Regions from separate parts of the Homo sapiens genome. Here region 1 is linked to region 2. The links come from fine-mapping of genetic effects on gene expression. A gene starts in region 2. The other region holds a variant in brackets. All regions are shown on one strand. Distances are from middle to middle.

Region 1 (5,363 bases), 39 kb after region 2:
TCTGTGTCAGAGCCTCGTAAACAAGCATGACCTCACGCTCGTCCCGCACACACCCCTCTGAGATCAGGCAGACCCCTCCTGTCCCCTGGACCTGCTGCACATGGGCGCTGACGCCACAGGGCCTCGCTCCTGGGGGTGGGCCTGCAGCTTGCGCAAGGAGCACAGGGACATGGGCGGCTCAAGGAGGACATGCCGGCCCTGCCCCGCGAGCCACGGATGAGAAGTACTCGACGTTTGTGTGTGCCAGGCCTAGGCGTAAGTGCTGGGGACACGGAGGGTGGCCCTTGCCTCCGGGATCCCTGGTGGGGACACGGTCGTGAATATTTTAGCACAATACAGAGCAGCCAGCCAGCAGCATAGCAGGGAACGTCCAGGCACAGGGCACTCAGAAGAAAGGGAATTATTCTGCCTGTGGGTCAAGGGAAGCTTCTGGAAGGGGAAAATTTGTCCACTGTGTCTTGAAGGGGCTTGCCAAAGAAAGATAAGGAAAGGGATTCCAGGCTGGGATGCCAAGAAGGGCTGTCTGGGAAAGGCCAAGTTCAAGGGCCAAAGGACTGGGACCCTGGCCACGCTGACCCCTCTGCCCCGAGCTTCTTCTGTTTCTCCTCCCAGAGGGACCCCAGGAGCCACACAGATTCAGTGCAGCTGAGCACTCCACATCCTGGGTCCCCAGTGCTCAAGGGTGACAGGTGAGGCCCCACCTCACCAGCTTTCGGATGGGGACCCCTCCCATCCAGGGAGGTCCCTGAGGCCGTCTGGCTCTAACAGTGAGGAAGCCTCCTTCCTGCCCATCCCTGGCCTGCCTGCCCCCCGTGTGTCATTTCCAAGTGCTCGCCACTCTGGCCACAAACCCCAGGCCAGGAGGCGGCTGCCAACCTCGCTCAGGTTGCCTTGGGGCCTCCATTATCCCCAACCTGGGCATGAAGGAGAAAGGTGAGGACCCAGCAGCATGGCCCCACTCAGGGCCTCTGCAGTCACCCCCTCCCAACCTCCATCCATCCTGCACATGTCCACAGCTGGATGGTGGGAGGGTGACTTCCCTTGTGCAGGATCAGGGCACGGTTGGAACTTGGTGGAGCCTTGACTGGAGCTGGGGAGGCTTCGGTGCGACCTGGCTCTTCTGACTCCCGTGGGAGAGTCACCGTGGTGGCCTGTGCTGGAGAATCAGTAGCCGCTGGGGCTGTGGCCAACTGGGAAGGGAGGTGACTATCTGCAGGGGTGGCTGCTGCCCAGCACCACCCGCCTGTGGCTTCGTGGAACTACAAGTCACATGTGGCCAGACCACAGAGCCGGCCCCACCCCATCTTTAAAGAGAGGCTGGAAATTCAGATATTAGGTAAATGCCTTCTGATGTTAACATGTAGCAACCAGTTCAAAATGTGAAAATGCTCCATGAGGGCCAGTTAACACAAGTCTGTGGGTTGGCATGGCCTCCAGTGGCCATCTGCATCCTCTGCTTTTCACTGAAACATTGCCCCAGTTTACAAATGAGGCTACTGAGGCCCAGAGACCCACGGTGACCGCCCACGGGAGGCAGAGCCAGGTGTAGACATCCTCCACCCCCTCTGCCTGAGTCGAGCTGCCCCTGTGAGGGCTGGATGGTGGCCACCAACCTGGCTGCTCAGTGAACTGCCACCCCTTCTGGGTGAGCCATGCAGAGGACCTCATTGGAGTCCTGCCCCCAATAAACACCTGGGGACATGCTTCCAAAGCCCAGGCCGGGCCTTAGAATAGTTTGCAGGCGCTGGGAACTGATTCCCCTCTTGGGCACAGGAGAACAGACCAATGGGGGCCCCGGGTGCCCCAGGCCCATACACCCTGCATGCACAGGCTGAGCCCTTCAAGGTGCTCTTCCCCTTACCAAACCCCCAGCCTCCCTTCCTTGTGGACCCCATCAGAGCTGACATGCCAACAAGCCAGGACCCACAGCCTGGACCTGTCTTAAGGAGGCTGCCAGGATCACCTCTCCAGGCCCTGTCTGCTGTTCCCGACATAGTGAGGAGGGGCTCTGGGGGGCTGGAAGGCCAGGGTGCCCCAAGTTGAGCTGGGGCAGTCCCCTTGGAGTGAAGGTGCGCATCTTGCCACTTCACCGGAGCGTAAGAGATGTTCTGGTGAGCAATTTCACCTCCTCACTCCCTTCTCCTTATTACATCATCATCACCATAATCCTGATCGCTCATCTGCACGCGTGACTCACACGCAGTGTTCCATGCACTGCACTAGGCACCTCCGCTGCACCCTCCCTTCCTTCCTTCTTTCTTTTCTTTTCGACGGAGTCTTGCTCTGTCACCCAGGCTGGAGTGCAGTGGCGCCATCTCGGCTCACTGCAACCTCCGCCTCCCGGGTTCAAGTGATTCTCCTCCCTCAGCCTCCTGAGTAACTGGGACTACAGACGC[C/A]CACCACCATGCCTAGTTAATTTTTGTATTTTTAGTAGAGACGGGGTTTCCCCATGTTGACCTCAGGTGATCTGCCCGCCTCGGCCTCCCAAAGTGCTGGGATTACAGGCGTGAGCCACCCACTCCCGGCCTCACTGAACTATCTCATGCATTCCAATAACAGTCCTCTGAGCTAAGTCTTATTATTTTTATTTTTGTTTACAGATGGGCTGGAATTGCTCATGGCAACACTGGGATTCAGAGCAGCACCAACACTAGGAACAGTGTTATCTGTCCTCCGAGTCCGTGCTCTTAACTGTTATGTGCCCTCCCCTCATGGCCTTAGGTTCAAGTCGCACCTGTCACTTTTTTTTTTTTTTTTTTTTTTAGACGGAGTCTCACTCTGTCACCCAGGCTGGAGTGCAGTGGCGTGATCTCGGCTCACTGCAAGCTCTGCCTCCCGGGTTCACGCCATTCTCCTGCCTCAGCCTCCGGAGTAGCTGGGACTACAGGTGTCCGCCACCACACCCAGCTAATTTTTTGTATTTTTTTTTTAGTAGAGACGGGGTTTCACCGTGTTAGCCAGGATGGTGTCGATCTCCTGACACCGTGGTCCGCCCGCCTTGGCCTCCCAGCACCCGGGCATACCTCTTAACTGTCGCTTTGACTTTGTATCCTTTGTGTCATAAAGGTTAGCCGTGAATATAGCCTGCTACTGAATCATGTGAGCTCTTCTAGCGAAACATCAAACTCGAGGGTGATCTTGAGACCCCCAAAACAGAGGCTTGTGGAGGCATTTATAAAGCATCTGCCAGCTGGGTACAGTGGCTCATGCCTGAAATCCCAGCACTTTGGGAGGCTAAGGCAGGCGGATTGCCTGAGTCCAGGAGTTTGAGACCAGCCTGGCCAACACGGCAAAACTCCGTCTCTAAAAAAAAAAAGAAAAAAGGAAAGAAAAAGGCCAGGAGCGGTGGCTCATGCCTGTAATCCCAACACTTTGGGAGGCCGAGGCGAGTGGATCATGAGGTCAGGAGTTTGAGACCAGCCTGGCCAACATGGTGAAACCTCATCTCTACTAAAAATACAAAAATTAGCCAGGGGTGATGGTGCATGCCAGTAATCCCAGCTACTTGGGAGGCTGAAAGAGGAGAATCACTGGAAATGGAGTCGGACCCTGGGAGGTGGAGGTTACATTGAGCCAAGATGGTGCCATTGCACTCCAGCCTGGGCAAAAAGAGCGAGACTCTGTCAAAAAGAAAGAAAAGAAAAGAGGCTGGGTGTGGTGGCTCATGCTTGTAATCCCAACACTTTGGGAGTCTGAGGCGGGTGGATCATGAGGTCAGGAGTTCGAGACCAGCCTGGCCAAGATGGTGAAACCCCGTCTCTACTAAAAATACAAAAATTTGCTGCACGTGGTGGCAGGTGCCTGTAATCCCCACTACTCCGGAGAATCGGTTTAACCCAGGAGCCGGAGGTTGCAGCGAGCTGAGATTGTGCCACTGCACTCCAGCCTGGGCAACAAGAGCGAGACTCCATCTAAAAAAAAAAAGAAAAGAAGCAAAGCAGGGCAGGGCAGAGCAAGGTGAGGCATAAAAAAAGAAAAAAGAAAAAAGAAAAAGAAAGAGAATAAAGCATCTGCCCATGGCAGGCACGGGGGGTGGCCTCAGCCATGGTGTCCAGAATGACCTGTGGGGCTTCAGCCTGTTCCTGCTTTCCCCATGGGTCCTGTCCTCTCTTCTGAGCAGGGATGGGTTTTGACCTCCACCCTCAGTTCTGCCCTTTGCTTCCCTGAGTTTAGCATTCTTTCCCCATGGCTTCTTCAGAGCTGACCCCCCACCAGAACATCCCTGATCAGGGCTGGGCCCTGTCCCTCACCGGGGACACAGAGTAAAGAGGCTGACCTTGACCCAACAGGTGAGGTCGGTCAATTCCTCAGTCCAGCCTACCCTGAGAGTGAGCAGGTGTGCTCCTCAGACAGGGGCGCATACCCGGAAGGCTGCCAGGTCCGACTGGGAACTCCTCCCTTTGCATGTGCTGAGGTCAGGCCTTCAGAAGCTGCCCCTCTGGTCAATGCTAAGACAGTGCTTCCCCATCCCAGGAGGTCCGTGTATCTAGGCTAGTCCTAGGGGGCCTGAGTGCTGGAGATGGAGTCGGACCCTGGGACGAGGCAGCCTGAAGCCTTGGGAAGAAAGGAAGAAGTGTGGGTCAGACTGTAAAAGTCATTGAATAAAGAATGTATGAACACATGTTGCCCCAGCGCCCCCAGCGGAGGACCACCAGGACCATTCCCTCATTTAAGCTTGGGCTGCCACTGGGGAGTGCACACAGACGGGAAGGACTGAGTTGGGAGAGGCCTCTAGGATGTGGGCTCATGCTGGGTGAGCCGAAGGAGGGTTTCCAGGAATGTAAGTGGGTTCTGAATTGGGCGCCATCCGGAAGCAGGGGAAGTTTGATGATTCTTCATAACATTTACCTAGGAGATGGGAAGAACAAGAAAGATTAATGTTGTTATTGGGTTAAGAAGCAATCGTGGGCTGGGCGAGGTGGCTCATGCCTGTAATCCCAGCACTTTGGGAGGCCGAGGCGGGTGAATCACTTGAGGTCAGGAGTTCGAGACCAGCCTGGCCAACATGGTGAAACTCCGTCTCTACTAAAAATACAAAAATTAGCCAGGATTGATGGTACACACCTGAAATCCCAGCTACTCAGGAGGCTGAGGCAGGAAAATCACTTGAGCCCAGGAGGTGGAGGTTGCAGTGAGCCGAGATTGCGGCATTGCACTCCAGCCTGGGCAACAGAGGGAGACTCTGTCTCAGAAAAAAAAGAAGAAGAAGAAAAAAAAAAGGCCGGGCACAGTGGCTCACGCCTGTATTCCCAGCACTTTGGGAGGCCTTGGCCAAGGCAGGCGGATCACAAGGTCAGGAGTTCGAGACCAGCCTGGCCAATATGGCGAACCCCCGTCTCTACTAATTATACAAAAATTAGCCA
Region 2 (5,363 bases):
AAAAGGAAAATCAGTATCACTTGTCATACATACTCAGACCATCATCCCCCCCAAACAGACCAATGTATTCAATTCTAGCCAGCTGCTGCTGCCTGCTCTGAGCCAGGAATGGCTTCCCCTCTGCACAGGATACTTAAGCAAGTGTCAGAGAGATGTTAAGGACACGTTAGCACCAAGTTGAAACTTTCTCCTGATGTTCTTGAAAAGGAAATAACTTTCCCATGCAGGGATTCCACGACTTCCTGCTGAGCTGTGCCCTCCCCACTTCCCCCACCCTGCCCCCAGCCCCAAATCAGCAAATCTGGGAATTCTGAGAAGGCACCTAAGCCAGCACGCACTCTTTGATTCTGGCTCCGAGTGGGCACCCCCATGGACCGCAGCCACTCCTGAGCCCTGGGTGTCCTTTGGGGACCTCAAGCTCCTTCTCACATACAACCACAAGTCAGTACCAGAAAATCTGAAGATACAGGTGGTCACACCCCAAAGCTCAACCTTTCCCTAGGAGACAACGCGTGTGTGTCCCTTTAAGAAGCAGAACAAAAACACTTGTGATTTTGTGAGCTGGAGGAGGTAGAGCCCCCCCAAAGCTCAGAGAGACTTGGGAAAAAGCAAGATGCCAGTAGGAAGGAGGATGACAGGCAGGGGTGGCAGTGGGGGCAGAGGAGCATCTGAAAGGAAGGGGAAGGGGAGCCTCTGGTGCTGTGGGCAGACCCTCCTGGTTCAAGGGTCTCCTGCACAAGTCTGGCCCCAAGGCCACCAGTTTTGGCCAAGGGTCTTGAATGCTACACTGAGAGGTGTGGAACATCAGGGCTTGGACATCTGGCAAAACTACCACCTTTGCCTCATCTCTGCCCCCAGAAACACCCAAAGGTGGCTCTACACATGGAGAATGGCGTCTGGGAGCACGAGATTTTAGCTGAGGGTTCAGGAATTTCCACGGATGCCTGTTCAGCCTGGGTGAGGCGGCATCCCGAAGCACGCTGCCCGCTCCGCCGTAGGTCGTTCCCTTCTGCCGAGCAGCTGGCCTCCGAGACAAGAGGCCTGCACAGACCTCGGCCAGGGCTCACCGCGGGCGCACCCCACCCCGGCCCTCAGCAAAGTCAGAGAGAGGCCTTTCATGGCTTCGAAAGTTCCTCCAGGTCCTCCAGCCACAGGAGGCTGGAATGGGTAACCGAATCCTACTCAAGGAAAAAAAAAAAAAAAAAAAAGAGCACAGTGACCTTTTGTCCCAGCAGAAGTTCCCGGCTCTCTCCCGGCCAGCGGAGGCGGCCCAGCCAGGAGAGTAAAGAATTGCAGATGTGCGCTCCGGGCCGCGGCCGCCCTCCCCACGGTCCCGCAGCCACGCGGGACAGCGCGGGAGCGCCGCGGGAATCGGACGCCCGGCCCCGCTCCCCGCCCCGGACTCCCTCTCGTGGCTTCGGGCCGAGGTTCGGGCAGTGACTGCCTCTTCCCCGCGCAAAGAGGCGGTAACGCGGCAGCGACCCTTCTAGGGACCAGACGTTCCTTTGGGGTCGCGAGGAGGACGCGCAGGCCCTGCCTGAGGCACTGACGCAGCGGGGGCGACCGGGCGGGCTGCGGGGACGGCGGGGCGGGGTCGCCTCTCCTCTCCTCGGTGGGCGCGGCGGGCTGAGTCGGGATGGGCGCCCCGCACTCGGGATGCGCCGGCCTGCGCGTGGCCGCCTTTGTGGGCGACTGGGAGACGTGGAGGAGAGCGACCTCGGTCGGCATGGGGTGGGGACCCCTCTGTTACGGGGTCCAGGCCGGACCGGACCAGGTCCCTCCCCTCCGTGGGGACCGGGCCTCGGTCCCCCTCACTGTGTCCGAGACCAGGAGTCGGGTTGGGCATCCCCCACCCACACCTCCGAGACGGCCACTCGGGGAACGCGGGTGAGGGGCAGCCAGGCCCGGCCGACGACAGCCCCTCGGTAGGGGCCCGGGGCAGATCGGCGCCCCCAGCCAGGTCCTCGGCGCCTGCTTGCGGGCGGAGGCGCGGAGAGGCTGCGGCGCCGGGACCCGCGGACGGCGTGGAGGAGGCGGCTCGGGCGGGCGCGGCACTCACCGCACATCGTGGCTGCTTCTCGGGCTCCTTCGCGGCTCGAGGGGGTCTGCCCGTTCGGACGCTGGGGCTCCTCCGTGGGCTCCTCCGTGGGCTCCGTGGGCTCCGTGGGCTCCGCGGGCTCCAGCTCCCGTCCGCTCGGCCTCCAGCCCTTATAACCCGGAGCCCTCCGAGAGGGCGGGGAAGGGGGCGGGGAAGGGGCGGGGCTTCCCCCGCCCGCCTGCTCCCATTGGCCCCCGGTTGTCGTGACAACGACGGGACCCGGCCCCCAGGAGCCAGGGAGGGGGGCCGAGGGGCGGCTCCCAGGCGCGGGTCGGGCGTGTAAGGCTGGGGCGCCGGGCGCCAGATCCCGGAGCGGGGCTTAGGGCAACCAACGGCCCGAGTTCAGACCCCGACTCAACCAGAGTAGGCGTGGAAGCCGGGCAGGGCCCGATCGCGCTGTGCCTCCGCTTTCCCGTCTGTGAAACGGGGCTACCCAGGGAAGCTCCCTCCCACGGGGTGCTGAGAAGTCAGACGGGCCGCGTAAGGGGCAGAGCGAGGGGTCCGGCATCACTCGCGCGCTCCGGAAACCCGCGTGAGCCGCTGTTCCTGCCGCGCTCCCATCTGAGTGACAGGCTTGTTTCAGAGCTCCGCAGACCTCTAAGCCTGGCCCTCACCCTGCGTGGAGAGAACGCCCGGGCTTGGCGGAGAGACGAGAAAACCGAGGCTCCCGGAGGCAGACAAGGACTCTGCCAAAACCGGACGCCGCGGCGGTGGCAGAATTCGACCCTGGGATTTGCCGCGGAGCCCGAGCTTGAAGGCGAGGGTTCCGCAGGTTGTGAACGAAGCTGGAGGCGCCCCAGGAAGCCCCGACCCCACCCGCGCCGAGCTGCCCCCTCCCCAGATCTGCCTCGCGCTGCAGGCCCGCGAGGGACCCGGGGGTTCCTACGCCTGGGGTCGGAATCCGACCCCCCAGTGAGGCACCAAGGCCCGCGTTTCTCCGCCCTGGTTCCCGGCCGTCCCTCCCGTTCCCCCTGCACTCTGGGCCCCTCGTCTCCCGAGGAAGGTCACGAGAACCGGCCCAACGTTTGCGCACTTTGAAGTTTTTTTTTTTCTTAAAAAAATCCTGAAATTCTAAACGGATCCTCCTCAGTCGTGTAAAAAAAAAAAGATTTTTACATCTCGTCTAGAGCATTTTTCTAACATAATCCCTCCCTAGTTTCACCGCGACTCTGCAAGCCCTGGGGGAAGGAGGTTGTGCCATTGGAGGGTTGGGAAAACTGAGGCTCCACGACAGCGAAGGAGGGGGCTTGGGTGAGTCCTGTTGTTGGGAAATCTCAGAGCGATTCAGGAGCCGCAGCGTTTGCCCCCAACCCTCCACTATGCAGGGTCGCTTTCCTTCCTTCCTTCTCTCATTCCTAAGAACCCACTTCACACCTGTCAGGGTGCAGGTGCAAGAGACTTATTGATGAATGAGAACAGATCTGGCCCTGCCCTCCTGGCACTTACAAGTGAAGGGGAAGCAGACACTAAGCTCGTGGTTACACAGAGAGCTAAAAATTCCAGGTAGGATACAAGGAGGGGGCTGGGCCAGCGGTGGAGAGGGTGCCAGGCTCTGCCTGGGACTGGGCAGGGCTGCGCTGGTGCAGGTGGTCCAGAGCCTAGCGAAGCCAGGAAGGAGGGAGCAGCAGGCAGTGCAAAGGTCCCCTGGATGAGGGCTAGAACTTGAATGTGGAGATCAGGTTGTTTGGCCCAGACTGGCCTCCACTGTTGTAACTGAGGCGGGGACAGGGTGATGTCAACAGGCCCTCTGATAGCACCAAGACCCCAGGAGCCCTGGGGTCTTAGCAGGGTCCAAATCTGTCCTTTATCCTCCTGGAGGAGTCACAGGTCCACGGTGAGGAACGGCATGAGTGCACACTACCACCCATGGGGATGTGTCTGTAGCAGCTGCCGGCCTAGCATCACTCCTGCTTTGAGAACCCTCTGAGAGTCATCTGGGAGGTTGATGGCCTGGGCCTGGCCACACAGCCTGGGCAGTGGTTCAGAGGTCAGCATATGGCCCAGGCTGGGACGTTGATGACCTGCTCCAGCACATGAGGGAAACCAGCAGAAAAGATGAACTTGGCCTGGTACAGTGGCTTGGGTCTGTCATCCCAGCACTTTGGGAGGCTGAGGTGGGAGAACTGCTTGAGGCCAGAAGTTGGAGACCAGCCTGGGCAACAGGGAGACCCATCTTTACAAAAAGTAAAAAAAAAAAAAAAAAAAAAAAAAAAAAGCCAGGCACGCTGGGTGCAATGGCTCATGCCTGTAATCCCACCACTTTGGGGGGCAAAAGTTTGAGATCTTTGGGATTGCTTGAGCCCAGGAGTTCGAGACCAGCCTGGGCAACACAGCAAAACCCGTCTCTACTAAAAACACAAAAATTAGCCAGGTGTGGTAATGTGCACCTGTAGTTCCAGCTACTCGAGAGGCCGAGGCACGAGAATGGCTTGAAACTGGGAGGTGGAGGCTGAAGTGAGCCAAAATTGCACCACTACACTCCAGCCTGGGCGACAGAGCAAGACTGTCTCAAAACAAAACAAAAATCCAGGTGTGATGGCACGTGCCTGTAGTCTCAGCTACTCAGGAGGCGGGAGGACTGCTTGATCAGCCTGGACAACATATTAAAACCTTGTCTCTACAAAATAATTTTTTTAAGTAAAAAAGATGGCTTATTCTCTCCTGAGTGGTGTGGCTGGTAGGAGAATGTCCTGATGATGCTGGGACCTTCTCATCACTTTTGCAGTGGGGTGGAGAGAGGCCACTGAAGAGCGGGGCAATCGGAGCAAGGCAGATGGATCTAGGATGGAGACGATACACATCAGAGCCCCTGGATTCGGCCAGGTCTGAAGCCAGGATTTATCCCTGGACTTCTCAGTATCAGGGCTCAATAAATTCTCATCTTTGCTTGAGGTACTCTGAAGTGACTTCTGTCATTTGCAACCAAGTAGAGTCCTGACTCTTGGATCGTGCTGGAACTAAAGTCTGAGGCCCAGGGGAGTGGGTAGGCAGGAAGCCGGTGGCAGCCCAGAAAGGAGACCTGGTCTGGATCAGGGGGCCCAGGAGGAGGGAAGATGCAGGGCCGTGCCCAGGAGCGTCTCTCAGCTGGACCCCATACATGTGCTTACACGGGGAGCCATGCCCAGGTGCCTCTCTCAGCTGGACCCCATACCTGTGCTTACAGGGGAGCAGGGTGCTGAGTCTGCTCCTAATGGTCCCAGTGTCCACTGCCCATCCTGCTCTCCACCGCTGGCCCCAGCCACACTTTCCCGGAGTGCCTCCACCC

Which allele goes with the higher level. Positions count from the first base shown, and alleles are read on the strand shown. Sizes are in standard deviations (SD) of each study's normalised expression.
As copies of C replace A in region 1, the expression in thyroid of the gene that starts at base 2,185 in region 2 goes down (small effect, 0.12 SD a copy in GTEx).

What was found. PIP is the estimated chance that this variant, and not a neighbour inherited with it, causes the effect. A credible set is the group of variants that fine-mapping cannot tell apart.
Region 1: its variant is the best candidate, but not a certain one, in a credible set for the expression of GFPT2 in thyroid (GTEx, PIP 0.90).

What each region holds. Positions count from the first base shown.
Region 1 is chr5:180,389,773-180,395,135 of GRCh38, forward strand. No RefSeq gene overlaps it. Among named protein-coding and RNA genes, the nearest start is that of GFPT2, 39 kb to the left of the region's middle. The variant C/A (reference allele first, on the strand shown) is at 2,397.
Region 2 is chr5:180,351,152-180,356,514 of GRCh38, forward strand. GFPT2 (glutamine-fructose-6-phosphate transaminase 2) reads right to left here and starts at 2,185. Exons shown (of 19, transcript NM_005110.4): 1 at 2,060-2,185. The coding sequence starts at 2,066. RefSeq lists an enhancer at 339-839 and a silencer at 2,212-2,441.